Regions from separate parts of the Homo sapiens genome. Here region 1 is linked to region 2. The links come from fine-mapping of genetic effects on gene expression. Tissue or cell type: whole blood. Region 2 holds a variant in brackets; the other region holds the start of a gene. All regions are shown on one strand. Distances are from middle to middle.

The links. PIP is the estimated chance that this variant, and not a neighbour inherited with it, causes the effect.
Region 1: ADPRH starts here. The variant in region 2 is fine-mapped to the expression of ADPRH in whole blood (TOPMed, PIP above 0.99). The same link has a PIP of 0.9 or more in blood mononuclear cells.

What each region holds. Positions count from the first base shown.
Region 1 is chr3:119,575,945-119,584,050 of GRCh38, reverse strand. It overlaps ADPRH (ADP-ribosylarginine hydrolase), which reads right to left and starts at 4,559. Exons shown (of 5, transcript NM_001125.4): 1 at 4,200-4,559; 2 at 3,415-3,500; 3 at 1,584-1,917. The coding sequence starts at 1,881. RefSeq lists enhancers at 1,643-1,942, 1,106-2,305, 3,410-3,629, 4,570-4,669, 4,454-4,955 and a silencer at 4,250-4,389.
Region 2 is chr3:119,623,578-119,631,683 of GRCh38, reverse strand. PLA1A (phospholipase A1 member A) reads right to left here. Exons shown (of 11, transcript NM_015900.4): 9 at 6,452-6,560; 10 at 2,819-2,983; 11 at 1,873-2,300. The coding sequence ends at 2,216. Among named protein-coding and RNA genes, the nearest start is that of PLA1A, 30 kb to the right of the region's middle. RefSeq lists an enhancer at 7,360-7,559. The variant C/TC (reference allele first, on the strand shown) is at 4,050.

The DNA of each region.
Region 1 (8,106 bases), 48 kb after region 2:
ATCCCAGCACTTTGGGAGGCTGAGGCAGGTGGATCAACTGAGGTCAGGAGTTCGAAACCAGCCTGGCCAACATGGTGAAACCCCATCTCTACCAAAAATACAAAAATTAGCCAGACGTGGTGGTGCGTGCCTGTAATCCCAGCTACTTGGGAGGCTGGGGCAGGAGAATCGCTTGAACCTGGGAGGCAGAGGTTGCAGTGAGCCGAGATCGTGCCACTGCACTCCAGCCTGGGCAACAGAGTGAGACTCCATCTCAAAAAAAAAAAAATTTTTTTTTAACTGGCCACTCAAAAAAATTTTTTTTAAAGACAGGCTTTTGCTATGTTGCCCAGGCTGGTCTCAAACTCCTGGACTCAAGCAATCCTCTCACCTTGGCCTTTCACAGTGTTGGGATTACAGGTGTAAGCCACAGCACTTGGCCCCACAGATCTATTTTTTAAAGGACAGTAGGTTCATAACATACATACTATTTTATAACCTATTAGTGTATAATAATACTTTTCAATATTAGTAAATATTATTTGCAAATTTTAAATTTTTATTAATATTTAAATTGACAAATCAATTATATACATTTATTTAGTATAATGTGATGATTTGATATATGTAAACAATGTGGGATGATCAGGCTAATTAGCATATCTATTGCCTCACTTTTTTTTGTGGTGAGACATTTGAAATTTACTCTATTGGTTATTTTGAAATATACGATACATTGTTATTGAGTAGAGTCACCCTGAATAATTTTAAATGGTTGCAAATGTGTCAGCTTAATTAATTATGAGAGATTTAGGTTCTTTCTATTTATTTCTTTATTTTTTAGAGTCAGGGTATTGCTTTGTCACTCAGGCTGGAATGCAGTGGCACGATCCTAGCTCACTGTAGCCTCAACCTCCCGGGCTCAAGCAATCATCCTACCTCAGCCCCCCAAGTAGCTGGGACTACAGGTATGTGCCATGACACCTGGCTAATGTTTTAAAAATTTTTTTCTGGAGTTGTAGTCCCCAGCCTTTTTGGCACCAGCGACCGGTTTTACAGAAGATAATTTTTCCATGGACGGGGTTGGTTGGGGGAGGTTTTGGGACAAAACTGTTCCACCACAGATCATCAGACATTAGATTCTCATAAGAAGCCCACAATCTAGATCCCTCGCATGTGCAGTTCCCAACAGGGTTCAGGCTCCTATGAGAATCTAATGCGCCACTGATCTGATGGAGGCAGAGCTCAGGTGATGATGCTCCTTCGCCCATCACTCACTTCCTGCTGTGTGCTCCAGTTCCTAACAAGCCACGGATCAGTACCTGTCTCTAGAAGAGGGATTGGCTACCCCATTCTAGAGACAGGGTCTCCGTATATTGCTCAGGCTTGTCTTGAACTCCTGGGTTCAAGTGATTCTCTCACCTTGGCCTCCCAAAGAGCTGGAATTACAGGTATGAGCCACCACCATGGCCGTTATTTCTATTTTTATCACATTTACAAACACTATTGTCTCTGTTATTTAAATCTCCATCAACATTCTTAATGATTTCCTCAAGGCTGTTTTATTCTTTGCCCTCCTTGCACCTCCCACCGGCTGTGCTCACCTGGTGCCCGCCCATCCATGTCTTCCATGCAGTCTTGGTAATGCTTAGCAAGGAGGTAATACAGTTGAGTCAACTTAGGGGCTTTCCCAGCTTCCACAAGAGCTTCTGCTGTGGCCAAGTGCATCACTGTGTCGTCACTAACTCTCCACCTTCCCACGTCTAGGGCATCCAAGCCGCCCAGCTGGGCCAACTGCCGGTGTATCTTCTCCCCATCCTGGAGGAACTCCCACTTCCCATTGTAGTACCCCAGGGCATCTCCAGCTGCACTCAGCACCATAGCAGCCACATACTTCTCCATCAGTCCCTCACAATTGCTGGGCTCTGGAGAGGGTGTCTTTGTGGGGAAATTAAGACAAAGGAAATAGGATGAGGAGCAAGAAGAATCAGAAAAAACAACGACTCTAGCTATGTTTTATTGAGCACTCACTACTTGCAGACATTGTATCAGTGGCATCTCATGTAATCCTCATCACTGCTCTATGAGGAATATAAAGCCCATTTTATGTATGAACAAATGGAGGACCATGGAGATAATGCAGTTTGAGAAATGTTCAGTGACTTGTCTCAGGTCACAGAGCCAATAAGTGGCAGGGCTGGGATCCCAACATAGGTCCATCTGACTCCAAAGTCTATCATCATAACTACAACTGTATCTCTTGCCTCTTGGTGAGTAGTAAGCCCACTAAATTCTGCAAGTCAAACCCAGCTCATCATTTGCTCTTCTTAGCTGGGATTTGGCCTTAGAAGTGCAAGGCTTTACACTTCCTATTAGTGTCACAATGTGTAGTTCACAAAGCACCTGCACATTCATTGTCTCACTAATAGGGAGGGATTACAGTATGCATTTCACAGATAAGAAAATGAAGGCTCAGATAAGCTAAATTCACAAAACAAGAGGAGTGGAAGTACTGGAACCCAAATCTGATTCCAGCCAAGCCAGGATGCTTGGTATCACACCACTCAGCCTCAGTCCAGATCTTCTTACCTTGGGCAACCTCTTGGTGCCTCAGCCTCCACATTTATAAAATGGCACTGATTTTAAAAAGTAACAACCTCCTGGATTTGTTGTTAGGAATAAATAAATTAAATTTCATAAAGTTGGCTGGACGCGGTGGCTCACGCCTGTAATCTCAGCACTTTGGGAGGCCGAGGTGGGTGGCTCATCTGAGGTCAGGAGATCGAGACCAGCCTGGCCAACAGGGTGAAACCCCATCTCTACTAAAAATACAAAAATTAGCCGGGTATGGTGGTGCATGCCTGTAGTCCCAGCTACTCAGGAGGCTGAGGCAGGAGAATCGCTTGAACCCAGGAGGCAGAGGTTGCAGTGAGCCGAGATTGTGCCACTGCACTCCAGCCTGGGCGACAGACCAAGACTCTGTCTCAAAAAAAAAAAAAAAAAAAAAGTTCTTAGAGTGCTTGGCACATAGTAAGCTTGATTTTTGACATATTTGTATTATTCATATACAACCAGGGAAAATGGGTGTTCTGTTTTAGAACTAGAACATTTTCTCCCCACAACCTTTCCTTCGACAGTAATGTTTAAATATTGTTTCTCTTAGAAATGATCAGCTTCTAGAGAATTCGAATCTCTATTAATAATATACCCACCATGAATGAAATCCCTGGTAAAGCGCTGGCTTCCCTGTTGGTGCATTTCCTAAGAACCCCCCTCTTTCAGCCAATTCCTCAGGGTTCCCTTCTCCCTGTGGCTTTCAGGTCAAAGCCCTCCATCCCATCCAGGCCAATACTTTTATAAGGGTCTGGCAGACTAGCTCATTCTCCCCTCAGGTGAAACTTTTCCCTCCCCTCCACTTATCTAAACCCTATTTACCCAAGGTCTAGTTCAAGTCAGGAGGCTTCCAGAAGTGCTTCTGCAGCTGCACTGCTGTTGGCCATGGAATGCAGGCTGGAGAGCCCCTGGAGAAGGAGTAAACGACGAAGATGGATGCGTTCCACTACCCAGTTACTGGTAATGCTGAGTTTCTGAGCTCACAAAGGATATTTGTAAATGTTATTTACATAGTTTATTATTTACAGTGAAGCCTAGGCACTGAGATTCTGGGCTACTAGACCTGACAGACACCCGGGACAGCGGTTTGCCCATCTGTAAACTGGAGGGGGAAGTGGGGAGGTATAGGCTCTCGGAAGTTCCGTCCTGCGCTGCGATTTTCAGACACTAGGCCAAGACACTCTGCTTCTTGGCCTCGGAGGACTAACTTTAACCCCCCATACCCTCCCTCTCAATGTCCTCATTGTCCTTTCCGTAATTCCTTCTGGCTCCACCCTAATGTGTGCTTCTGTGAATTGCAAGCTGGGATGGGGGAAGAAGACCGGCATCTTTTTTCGGTTGTAAATTCCCTTTAACGTTCGCTTTCAGAACGCTGTAATTACTTAACTCCTCTGAACTTTCACGGGTCACATTCTCGTACCCGAACTATACATTCAGAACTAAGATCTGATCAGCTGCTTCCGGGCCATGCCCGGCTTTGGAAAGAAACGGGGCGGTTGACACGCTCCCACGATTTGCAAGACTGGGAATCCTCATGGTCGGCCACACTCGGAGAGCGCCAGGGGCGGGGGAGGGGAGCGCGGGGCCGAGGGCCGGGATCGCGATACCTGCTGTAGCCTGGACTGGAACGCGCGAGCGACGGGCGTGGCGCGGGCTCCCGGGGCCGGGGAAGAGGCCTTGGCTGCTGCGGGTGGACGAGGGCGCGGGTTGGGGCGGAGCCGGGTCACCGGGTTCCGGGACTGTCCCCAGATAAGCAGGGTGGCGGCGAGGGCCCCCGCACCTGCGCTTGGCCGCGCTGAGTGAGCTAATCTTGGAGCCTCCAAGGCGGCTTCCTGGCACCGCCGCGCCCTTCTGCACCCAAGCGAGAGTGGACGGGACCTCCGTCGCCCGCCCCAAATGCTCTGAAGAGCCCGGAGCCTGGTGCCCGGAATGTGGCGGCACCGGAAAGCCGGCTCTCGCCTGGCTGTGGTCAGTGACTCCCGTGTGGCCCCGGCTGACGCCTTCGCCCGTGCTCACGTCCGACTTTGTAGGACTGTAGTGGACCGGGTGTGCCCAGATGCTTGAAGAGCGTACTGAGTGTGCCGCCCTTGCCAGGGTTCTGGGCCCTCACGCATAAAGTGGGATAATAATATCTGCCTCTTAGAATGGTTGTTAAGGATTCAGTTAGTTAATTTTAACTAGTCATTTATTTGGCAGCAGCGTAGAATTCTTGTATCCTGATCGTAAATAAAAGCAAAGAAAAACGAAGAGTATTTTTGTCTAAATACATTAATCATGTCACTTTTAAAGCAAATCAGAATCACCATATGCAAATATTCTATATATTTCTCCAAAGTTTTAAATTTGCTATGCCTATTTTCTTGCTGTAATGACTAGCCTTGGTCTGAGAGCTTTTTAAAAAATTGATATATAATTTATATATAATGAAATGTCCTTACACCATAATCGAGATATGAAATATTTCCATCACTTTAAAACATTCTCTTGTGGCCTTCCCAGTGAATAACCATCTCCATCTCCAACTCTAGCCTAAGTGACTTTTGAGTGTTTACAAAAATCAAGTTCACCAATAAGGGAGGCAGAGATCACCTCCAACCCCCTACACCCTCTAGCTCTTAGTGAGCTAATCAGCTGCATCTAGAAGCCAAATTGACACTAGGCAGATTAACAAGAGAAAAGTATACAAATTTTATTAATTTTACATGTACATGGGGATGTTAAGAGACTGAATCCTGAAGAAAGTGTCCAAAGCAAGATGCTTTTATACTTTTTAGAAAAAGAGTGATAAATTTAAGAAGAAGTGACAGGACAAAGAAAATCCGGCTAGGGTGGTAAAAAATTTCTAGGGGAGCCCCTAGGAGATATATGGGGGGTGGGGTGTAAAACAGGTGGAAGATAATGGTTACTTTGCAAGAATGTTTACTCCAGTCCAAATGCCACCTCCAGTTCCAAATCTCTGGTGATGAGAGCTATTTTCTCGCTCTGGCGTGGAGAACATACCTCTCCTAGAGGAATCTTTATTGCTGGCTGCATGCAGGAAGAGACAGCTCAGCTCCTGTCAGGGAACCAGGCTCATTTGTCTTTCACACAGTATGCCAATCACTGAGGCGCACAAGTTTTGCAGTAGAGAAAGGGTGTATTCACAAGGCAGCCAAGACAGGAGACTGGAGAACAGGCCTCAAATGTGCCTTTCCAAAGATGGAATTTTAGGAGTGCTTATGGGATAGGGGAGGAAGGTGGTCCAAGGTTCAGAGAAAGATGAGGTAAGGAAAAGTGAGGCAATCGGTAATCTGAGCAAGCATAGTCAATCTTCATGGCTGTTCATAGAACACATGTTCACAAAATCGTGACGTTAGCATGATCTGAGAGTGGAGTTTTGGGCCTTCTGATGTCAAAAGGTCACCCATTGGACACTCACGCAGGCCAAGATGAAGGGCTGGTGGCTTGAACTGGACAAGAACTGACTCTAAGTTCCTGAAAAATAACTTAAGCAATATTTTCCATGGTGTCCTATCAGAGAAGTTATCTATAAGGAGGCAAGTGGAATTTAGTTATGTATCGTCTAGCTACATGACTTTTAGCTATGCAGGTTTTAAAATCGACTAGAAGCAAGTGACCAAAAGCAAGCAAGGCAAATTAAGTGTCAGGCCTAATCAGGTCAGCCCTCAGTTTTACCCTTTCTGAAACTATAATTTCTCTAATGTTTTCAACTCAAAGTAATCAATATATTATATGGCATATTTGGGGATGGCACATCCTTCATTCTTTCAACTGTCAAAGATTTTCAGCCTCTGAGGATGCAGTCAAAGCAAGTTCTGTAGTAAGAGACATTTTGAATAATAAGCATCCCGATAAAACTCAACACAGTTTCAGCTTAAGATGTCTGCTGAGGATATTGTTCATATTATGTAGTGATCTTTCTGTGAGAATCCATGGGAAAGGGTGATTTTTTGTTTTCGTTTTTGACTTAAATGTAAAGAATAACTGGGGCTGGGCACAGTGGTTCATACCTGTAATCCCAGTACTTTGGGAGGCCAAGGGGGACAGATTGCTTGAGACCAGGAGTTCGAGACCAGCCTGGGCAACATGGTGAAACCTGTTCTCTACAAAAAATACAAAAATTATCCAGGCATGCGCCTGTGGTCTGAGCTACTCAGGAGGCTGAGGTGGGAGGACTGCTTGAGCCCAGGAAGCAGAGGTTGCAGTGAGCTGAGATTGTGCCACTGCACTCCAGCCTGGACGACAGAGCAAGACCCTGTCTCAAAACACAAACAAACAAACAAAAACAAACAGAAAAACTGGGGTTGTTAGCAATTAGTTTGCTTTGAACTTTATGGTGCCTATGAACTTTGTGACCATTAGCATAGACTCCCGACACATCCACGCTATCTGGTTTCAAACCCTTGTAACAACACTTGGGGGCCAGGCACGGTGGCTCACGCCTGTAATCCCAGCACTTTGGGAGGCCAAGGCAGGTGGATCATGAGGTCAGGAGTTCGAGACCAGCCTGACCAACATGGTGAAACCCTGTCTCTACTAAAAATAAAAAATTAGCCGGGCATGGTGGTGGGTGCCTGTAATCCCAGCTACTCGGGAGGCCAAGGCAGGAGAATTGCTTGAACCCAGGAGGCGGAGGTTGCAGTGAGCTGAGATCGTGCCACTGCACTCCAACCTGGGCGACAGAGTGAGACTCCATCTCAAAACAAAACAAACAAACAAAAAACACTAGCTTGAGTAAGTGATTTTAGACAAGTCACTTCATCTTGCTAAGCTTCACTTTCTGTTATTAAGTAGGAAAAATAATAGTACATATTTCATAAAGTTGGTTTGAAGATTGCATGAAATAATTAATTGAAAAATTTTAGCACAGTGCTTATCAATGTAGTAGTCATGCAAGAAAAAATTACTACCAGGTCAGATATCTCTCTGTATTCCCAGTTCTCATCTCCATCACACACATGAGCCATTCTACCTTCTTTTCACATTAGTTAACACCTACTGACATCCTTTCTCTTCTGTCAAAATTAGAAAATGTTTTTGGGCATCAAGGACATTGTCCTATAAACCAAAAGGATAATTTATCAGTTAGCATGTTTCCAGCTCCAAATAACGGCAAATAACCATCACTCTTCCCCACCCCCAAAACACCACATACTCACTGGGCTTAAATAATAATGGCACTTATTATCTTATGTAACAAAATGTCTAAAGGTAAGAAGTCCCAGGGTTAATTTAGCAACTGTATACTATCATCAAAGAAAGACCCTGTTCTTCTTATCTTTCTGACCTACTATCTTCAGTTATTTTTATCCCCAGACTGACGTTTTTAATTGGCACAAGATCATATTTTCCCCATTTTAATTTATTTTATCAAATGTATATAGAGGTCTTATCCTTCGGTTTGTTTTTGTTTAAACCATTTTGCTATTTTGTGTCTGCTAGCGAGCCCAAGAGGCGTTGCCTATTAACCATTTACTGTTAATTTCTTCGAAAATTTTTGTTTAGCTCTGATTA
Region 2 (8,106 bases):
ATTGTATTTGTTTCTAGGATTAATTTATGAGTAGAGAAACTGGTTTTTCCATGTAAGGTAATAATCCAAAATTTCTGACGGAGCAAAGTAACATGTGAGAAAGTCTAACAGTGTTTAAAAATAAGAAAATATTCGCAAAGAAACCCAGGGCTATGGCCAAAAGCAGAATGGAATTTGAGGCCACTGAAAAACAGATTGAGTGAGTTTAACACCAGTTAGCATCAACATCACAAAACATGATTTCTTGTTGTTGTTGTTTTTGAGATGGGGTCTCACTGTGTCTCTTAGGCTGGAGTACAGTGGCATGATCTCAGCTCACTGCAACCTCTGCCTCCTGGGTTCAAGCAATTCTTGTGCCTCAGCCTCCTGAGTAGCTGGGATTACAGGCATGTGCCGCCACACTGACTAATTTCCAGCTAATTTTTTTTTTTTTTTTGCATGTTTAGTAGAGATGGAGTTTCATCATGTTGGCCAGGCTGGTCTTGAACTCCTGACCTCAAGTGATCCACCCAGCTTGGCCTCCCAAAGTGCTGGGATTACAAGTGTGAACCACCGCGCCCGGCCGACAATATGATTTTCATCACAGAAATGTGATACACATTTGGAAAAAAAAGCAACGAGCAGTGGGGAAAACTAAGGAAGAAGTATGTGCTAAGCAGTGTCTCCCAAGATGGCAAATGGAAGTGCAGCGTAATACAGCTCAGGGTAAGACTGTCTCTAGGGAGGAACCTGGGTGGAGTAAAGAGAAGGAAAAGGAAAGGAGGGTTTTTGGTTTGAGGCAAAATAGAAAATTGCAAGCCTACATAGCAGGGAACATGTGTATTCTTTAGACATGACTGTGATCATGCAGACAGTTAAACATCTTCGTGAGCCTCACCTGTCCTTTTGGTTGCATTTCCAAGGCCTGGACAAAGGCCGAAGCTCTCTCAGTGCCCTGGCTGACTTGGCCCAGATGAAGTAATTGCAGCCTGTTGCTTACATCATTCTCCCTGTCTTCATTGTGGAGAGTGAATCAGCAAGTCAGCAGTTTCCTTTTAAAGCTCATTTATTTATGTTTTTTAAAAAGTGAATTTAAAGAATAAAAGAATCCGAGGCAACCTGGATTTGGGAAAGTGGTGAAGGCGTGTGCCATATCTGTTAGTTCCGCACCCCCTTCCCATCCACTCTCCAACCTTCTCTGTCCTGCTGTATGCCCCGGGCCTGGTTAGGCCATGTCAATGTGTTATTTGTCCTCTGGCTTCTGTTGGGGGTCCTTAATGGGGAGCACTAGCAGGAAAATGGGAGAGGAAGAAGAGTGAAGTCAGAGAACCTGTGCTTCTGCTCCCTCCCTGCGGGGTTGCTGCTGGCTGGCTGTGTCCCTGCACTGCAGGTCTGCAGCCTTCTGGTGCTTCCCCTCCTTCTCTGGCCTCTTCACAGGTAGGGTAGTAGCAGCTTCTACTGCCAGTAGCTTCAGGGAACTGCATTATCCCTGTGGTTGCCCCACAAAAGACTATGGCAAATTGTCCTTTTCTTAAATTCTCCTCAAATAACCCAGATTGAGCGCACCATCTGTTTTTTGCTGGGCTGCGGCTGATACAAGGTTATTTACAAAGATCAAAGTTTGGGAAACACTAACCCAGAGGAAATCTACCTGTATTCCCCAAGATCTCTCTGATCCCTCAAACCTTCCAGATATCCAGAGGAGGTAATGGTAAGGGTTGGTAAATGGTGCCATCTTCCTCCCTACCCTTCATCCCCTCTCTTTTTCCAAGTACTTCTTTTAGTTGCTATTTTAATACCGATAATGCAATACTGTTTTCTCCAATCCCACAGAGTATAAATCTCAACTTTTTGTAGGTAACAGAATTCCATTCAAGTAAAACAATTAAATGATTCAGATACTCCATGAAGTTTTATTTTTAAAAAATTGTTTACCCTGTACATGTTTCTATTGAATCCTAAGTACGAATGCCCAAGGAGATAAAGCAAGTGCAGTTAAGTATGCATGGGAAAGCTAAAATGGGTATGTACATAAGATCGGCAAAGGAAACCAAGTTCTGTAAAATGAGTTCTCCCTCCCCTCCAGGGTAGCTGATTATGAGGAAAATAAGAAAGAGCTTTGCTTTTCTCCTTAGTAGTAATGGTCTACAATAAGCTGCACACACACATCCCTCATCACACCTCTCTCTCAAAAAAAAAAAAAAAATGCAGGGAGATGTGTCCTGCCCAGGTTAAACTACACACAGGCTATCTTCAGGTCACAGGAAACAGTCACACTTGCTTGTAAGTTCACTGGTTCAGGTAAGCAGACCATCTTTTCTCTGGAAGAGAAGAGCAATAAGAGAGCAGTGGCTGGTGAGGAGACAGGGCTTGGCATTGTGTGGCTTTTGAATTCCCATGATGTCTGGTGAAAGAAATCTGCAATCACCTACAATTAAGAGCCAGTTCCTGTGGTCCAAGTGCCCAGGGGTGGTAAGGTTAATGACATAAATGCCTTTAGAGGAAGGGAAAGGGGATGTGGATTCTGGATCCACACCCATGAATGTGACCCATGACACAGTTGGAGTGGAGGCCACAGAGGAGAAAATATGCAATGAGAAAACTTTGTTCTAATAAAATCTTACATAGAAACCAAATATGCAGAACAAATACAGTGGAATTTCCCCAACCCAAGATGGTCCCACAGGAGGTTCTGGAAAACACCGGGTGTCTGTCATCTCTGCTTCTAAGATGATAATCACTATGATGAGATTGAACCTCAATAGGCAGCACATCTAATGCCAAGACTGGTCTTTGATGTGTGAGTGCATCTGGTGCAGAGGTGAATACTGGGGCTTACCTGTCATTGACAGGCAAAAGGGCAGTGCAGAACTTCCCAATAATGGTAGTCCGGTCTTTTTTCCAAACTCGGTTGGAAGACTGAAACTTGAATTTCACTTGGTTTATCTGGCATTGTGGGGTGGCATGGGCTATGATTCCTTTCCCATAGCGTTGCTGCTTAGGTCTGCAAGAAAAGGGTAAAGGGAAAGTAAATGACTGTAGCCCTTACCACCTGTACTTCCCCTTTGGCTCCGATCGGGCTCTGCTGGTGGCACTGGTTGGCTGTCATGCACCAAGGGGTTAGCTCCTTACCACAGTCCTTTGTGTCACCTTCACCAGCCCCTCTGCCCACACCTACAGCTTTGAATATGACCAAGAAAGTAGTTGTTGATTTTTTAGAATAAACAAGTGGACACTGCAACAAAATAGTAGCTCCTGGATTTTCATATCTGGAAAAACTGTTCCTCGTTCTTGGATTCCTAGCTGGAGGAGATCTTCACCTTCAGATCTAATTACCCAGAAGTAGAAACCCTCTTTTAGGACATTCCTTTTCAAAGAATTCTGTGTAAGGACTTTTCTGTTTTAGGCTAAGTATGAATGTGTGGGTGGAAACAGCAACAAGAAAACATCATGAAGCGCAGACAGAGTTGGGTGGAACCCAGGTTTGTCTTCCCAGCTGTATGGCTTTGGACAAGTTACCTAAGCTGGCAAGGTGGCTGTGGAGTCACATAGCAACTAGGTGTAAGTTCCAGCTTCCCTACATGCTGCTATGAACTTGAACCGTAGGGTTTGGTTCATACTGACTTCAGCTGAGGAGACTCAGAGTGAAAATGGCATCCAGTTCTGTCTTAACCCAGCCTCTTGGCTTTGCCCCCCCAGATTCCCTTTATGTTTAAAGATTCAGGCACCACTTTGGACTGAGACAAAGATGAGGGAGGAGTATGAAGTGATCAACCTAGCAGGGTGCTTCCAAAAGGGCTGTGGTACCCCCTAGGTACTAGGTACTGGAGACAAAAGCAAAAAATCGTGAGATTCAATGAGGAAAGTCTTCACGCTGAGTGCAAGGCACAGCCCAGCCAGCAGATCCTGAGGGTGGTGAGTGGGGGATCAAGGAGGGCGCCCAGCAGAGCTGCACCACCCAGCTAGGGAAGGAATTTGACTTGTGGGGCCCTTTGTGATCCTCCCTGGAATCCAAGTGGGACTCTGAAAAAGAGGAAAGAAGGAGGGCGCTGCGTTCCTCTCGGCGGGGG[C/TC]AGGGGTGGTGTGGGGAACCACCCTTGCCAACTGGGTTTCCTGTTCCTTTCTGGCCTTCGCAGAGTGGTGATAGGGCCTCTTTGTGTTCTTTTTAGTCCAGTGTTAGTCATATCACTTGTTTTTTCCTTCTGAGGGAAGATCATGTATAATTTTGTTTAAAAACCATTCCCTCTTTTTTTAAATTCACAAGTCTTTTGAAATATTACAGAGGGAATAAATAAGATTGTTTCCTTTAAGCTTAGACTGAAGAGTTTGTAAAATACAAGGAATATGAAAAATCTTTTAAGTGAGTGGTTTGGGGAGTTGGCCCAGGTTAATTCTCCAATTAGAAGGAAATCTTAGCGTCGCATAAAGCTATAGAAATTTGGAAAAAGACCACACATAACCTCCCCGTTTTTCCCCCAATTTCTGATCTGCAAGAAGTGAATCATGTTCTGGTGCCTTCTTCAAAAGAGTTATGTGAACCTCTTCATGGAGGAGGAAGCGCTAATCTGTGGATGTTGACTGGAATTACTCGGGGAGCTTTTAAAATGTAGCTGTGGAGCCTATGCCCAGAGACCCTGATGTGATTGGTCTGGGTTGGGGGGCTTGGCGTCAGTATTTTTTAAAGCTCTCCAGGTGATTCTAACGTGCAGTCAGGGTTGTGGGTCATTTTCATGACTCCTGCCAGTGTTGCTGGACCTACCAATGGGCTAGAAGATGATGAAAACACCCTTCTAGAAGTAGCACAACCTTGAGCGGGTCTAATGAAAGGTACTTGGCTTACTGATATCCAGCCACAATCTGCAAGGCTCTGTGGGCACCTGCAGGCCTGTGCTGGAATCCTGATGGCTGTACCTAGCTGTGTGACTTTGGGTGAGCCAGAAGGAACACCAGCTAGTGGCCACGGTTTTGGGAGTGAAATGCACTCCTTCCAGCAGAAACTTGTAGTGCCTCACAGCAGAGTTCATGTCCAACATCCCAACCCGAGAAATATCTCCAAACTCACATCTGATCTCATCACTGTCCTGTTTAAAACTCCCAGTGGCTCTCCAAACTACTCTCAGGATAAAAACCTGTCCTTCAAGGCCTGGCAGGGTCTGGCTCTGACTTGCCTCTCCAGCCTCACAGCATCCCCACAACCCCAAATCTGTGCTCCAGACACACCAGAGGTGTCACATTCTCTCTAAGCCTGGCCTGGGTAGCTCCTGGAAAGCCTGCTCATCATTTCCTTGGACTCAGTCAGACTCTGTCTTCTATGCTGTCACTCTCAGGGCATTGCTCACTCATTTAAGTGTGTGTGCACTGGTCATTTCCCTGTTTGCTCTGGACTGATCTATTCCCCTGCAGGTTCCCCCACCAACAGGTTCCAGTGAGGTCTAACCCAGTGGAAGCATGCTCAGGTGGGTGGCTGCTTTGGGCAGGGGTTCCAGAGGGGCCGCACTTCCCATGGGTTCAGCTCCTGCCAAGCAGCCTTCCCTGTGGACCCAGCTTTGCCAACTCCACTCCTGCTTTGTCCCTCTAGCCTAGGGTTGTATTGGCTCCTGTTGTGATTAATCTCTGCATTGTGTCCCCATCTCTGTTTTCCAGCTCATCCAACACACTTGTAATGAGTTCACTGTGCTAAATTCCTTCTCTTGGACCTCCTCTGTTTTCCTGACCGGACTCTCACTGAGACAGTGACATTATCTGACAATCTGTCTCCCGCTGGCTTGTGAATAACTAACCGGTTGCTTTTTAAAGAAGCATGCACCATGGCTGCTGACTTCCTATCCCCTGCAGGCTGTGGCTCCCTACAGTTGGGGTTCCTTGCCCTCTCACTTCAAGCGTAGTCCCACCAGCCCCCAAGCCCAAGTCTGCCCCAACAAAGGAAGGGAATGACTACCCCCAGTTTCAGGAATCACCCAGCACCAAGCCCTCCTGGCCGCTAGTCTGGCCCTCAGCTCGCACTCCGTTGCTGACTGACCCTGTGCCTCAGATTCCATTCTGGTAACTGACCCAGAACTGCTCTCCTTTCCCAGGAGTGGGTGCTCTCCAGGCTCTGGCTAGCCCTTCCTGGGCTGGTGACTGAGGCCCTCCTCCCTACTGACATCCCTGATACCCGCACTGTCTGGATTCCAGAGTACTGTTTCCTCTCAGGGACCTGATTCCTATGTCCTCTCCATCTGTTGGGACATGCCATCCCTGCTGCCTGCTTGCCCTGCCTACTCTCATCTGAATCTGCTATACTTGGACCCACTACTGAACAGCTCCTCAGCATGTGTCTGTGGCTGGATCTATAGTAGGTGCTGCCCCCAGCCAAGCCGGCTGGGCCCATGCATCAGCAATCACACAGTCCCTGACCTGGGATGTCCATGTGTGTAAAATGAAAAAGTAACCAACTCCTAAGGGGAGGAGTCAACCAGGTGGGACACTTACGTACATGGTGATCTTAGATGAAGAGGTGATGTTACTGCTAAGGAAGGTAACCTCGATGTTGGTGTCCTTGTTTCTCAGTTCCTTCAAGTGAAACTCCACGAGGCTGTGATGCACTAGGAAACCAAAGCACAACAGAGACTGGCCAGAGGGCAGAAGGTGCAATGGGCAAAAACCCCAGAGAGCAGCAGTGTGGTTGGGAATCTTGGCTCTATCTCTTAGTGGCTGTGTGCCCAGGAGCAGATCACCTATAATCTCAGGTCCTCAGTTTCCTCAAGTGCAAATTGAGGATAATAAAAATAGACACTTGGCTGGGCGCAGTGGTTCACGCCTGTAATCCCAGCACTTTGGGAGGCCGAGGCGAGTGGATCACCTGAGGTCAGGAGTTTGAGACCAGTCTGACCAACATGGTGAAACCCCATCTCTACTAAAAATATAAAAATTAGCCAGGTGTGGTGGCGGGTGCCTGTAATCCCAGCTACTCAGGAGGCTGAGACAGGAGAATCGCTTGAACTCAGGAGGCAGAGTTTGCAGTGAGCAGAAATTGCACCACTGCACTCCAGCCTGGGCGGCAGAGCAAGACTCCGTCTAAAAAAAAAAAAAAATAGATACCCTAGGTCTGAAATAAGTGGGTTAATATGTATGAACTTCTCAGGACAGTGCCTGTGCCTAGGAAGCATTCAGTAATGTTAGTTTTTGTTATTTTGTAATACTAATGTTTTACTTCCCCTTGTTTGCTGACATATTCATGGTGGGATGATCTTGAATGAGCCAAAATGCATCTATCATATACGGCTATCTTTTGTTTGTGTCCCCTCCGAGTTCATGTTTAAACTGAATGCTCTGTGCAACAGTACTGAGAGGTGGGGCCTTTGAGGGAAGGGATTAAGTCATGAAGGCTCTACTATCATGAATGAAATAGTGCCTTATAGAAGGGCTCAAGGGAATTGGCAGGGCCCTTATTTGACCTCCTGCGTTCTGCTGTGTGTGAACACGGTATCTGTCCCCTCTGGAGAATGCAACAGCAAAGCACCTTCTTGGGAGCAGAAAGTGCAACCCTTATAGACATGGAGTGCCGGCGCCTTGATCTGGGACTTCCCAGCCTCTAGAGCTGTGGGAAAATAAATTTCTGAGCTTTGTAAGTTACCCAGTCTCAGGTACTGTGTCATAGTAGCACAAGTAGACTAAGACATAAACTAAAGGTTTAACTCATAAGGTCAGGCGTGGTGGCTCACTCCTGTAATCGCAGCACTTTGGGAGGCCAAGGCGGGTGGATCACCTGAGGTCAGGAGTTTGAGACCAGCCTAGCCAATATGGTGAAACCCTGTCTCTACTAAAAATATAAAAATTAGCCAGGCATGGTGGCAGGCACCTGTAACCCCAGCTACTAAGGAGGCTGAGGCAGGAGAAGCATTTGAACCCGGGAGGCAGAGGTTGCAGTGAGCCGAGATGGTGCCGTTGCATTACAGCCTGGGTGACAAGAGTGAAACTCTGTCTCAAAAAAAAAAAAAAAAAAAAAAAAGAAAGAGAGAATTAACTCATTAAATACAGCAACGGCCCTGCTCCCTCTCCACACACCCAGCGTCAGGGAAGCAGGCTGTGTGTGTAGGAGACTGCTCCTCTCCCTGCAGCCGCTGGTTACCTATGTGGCATCCAGACTCT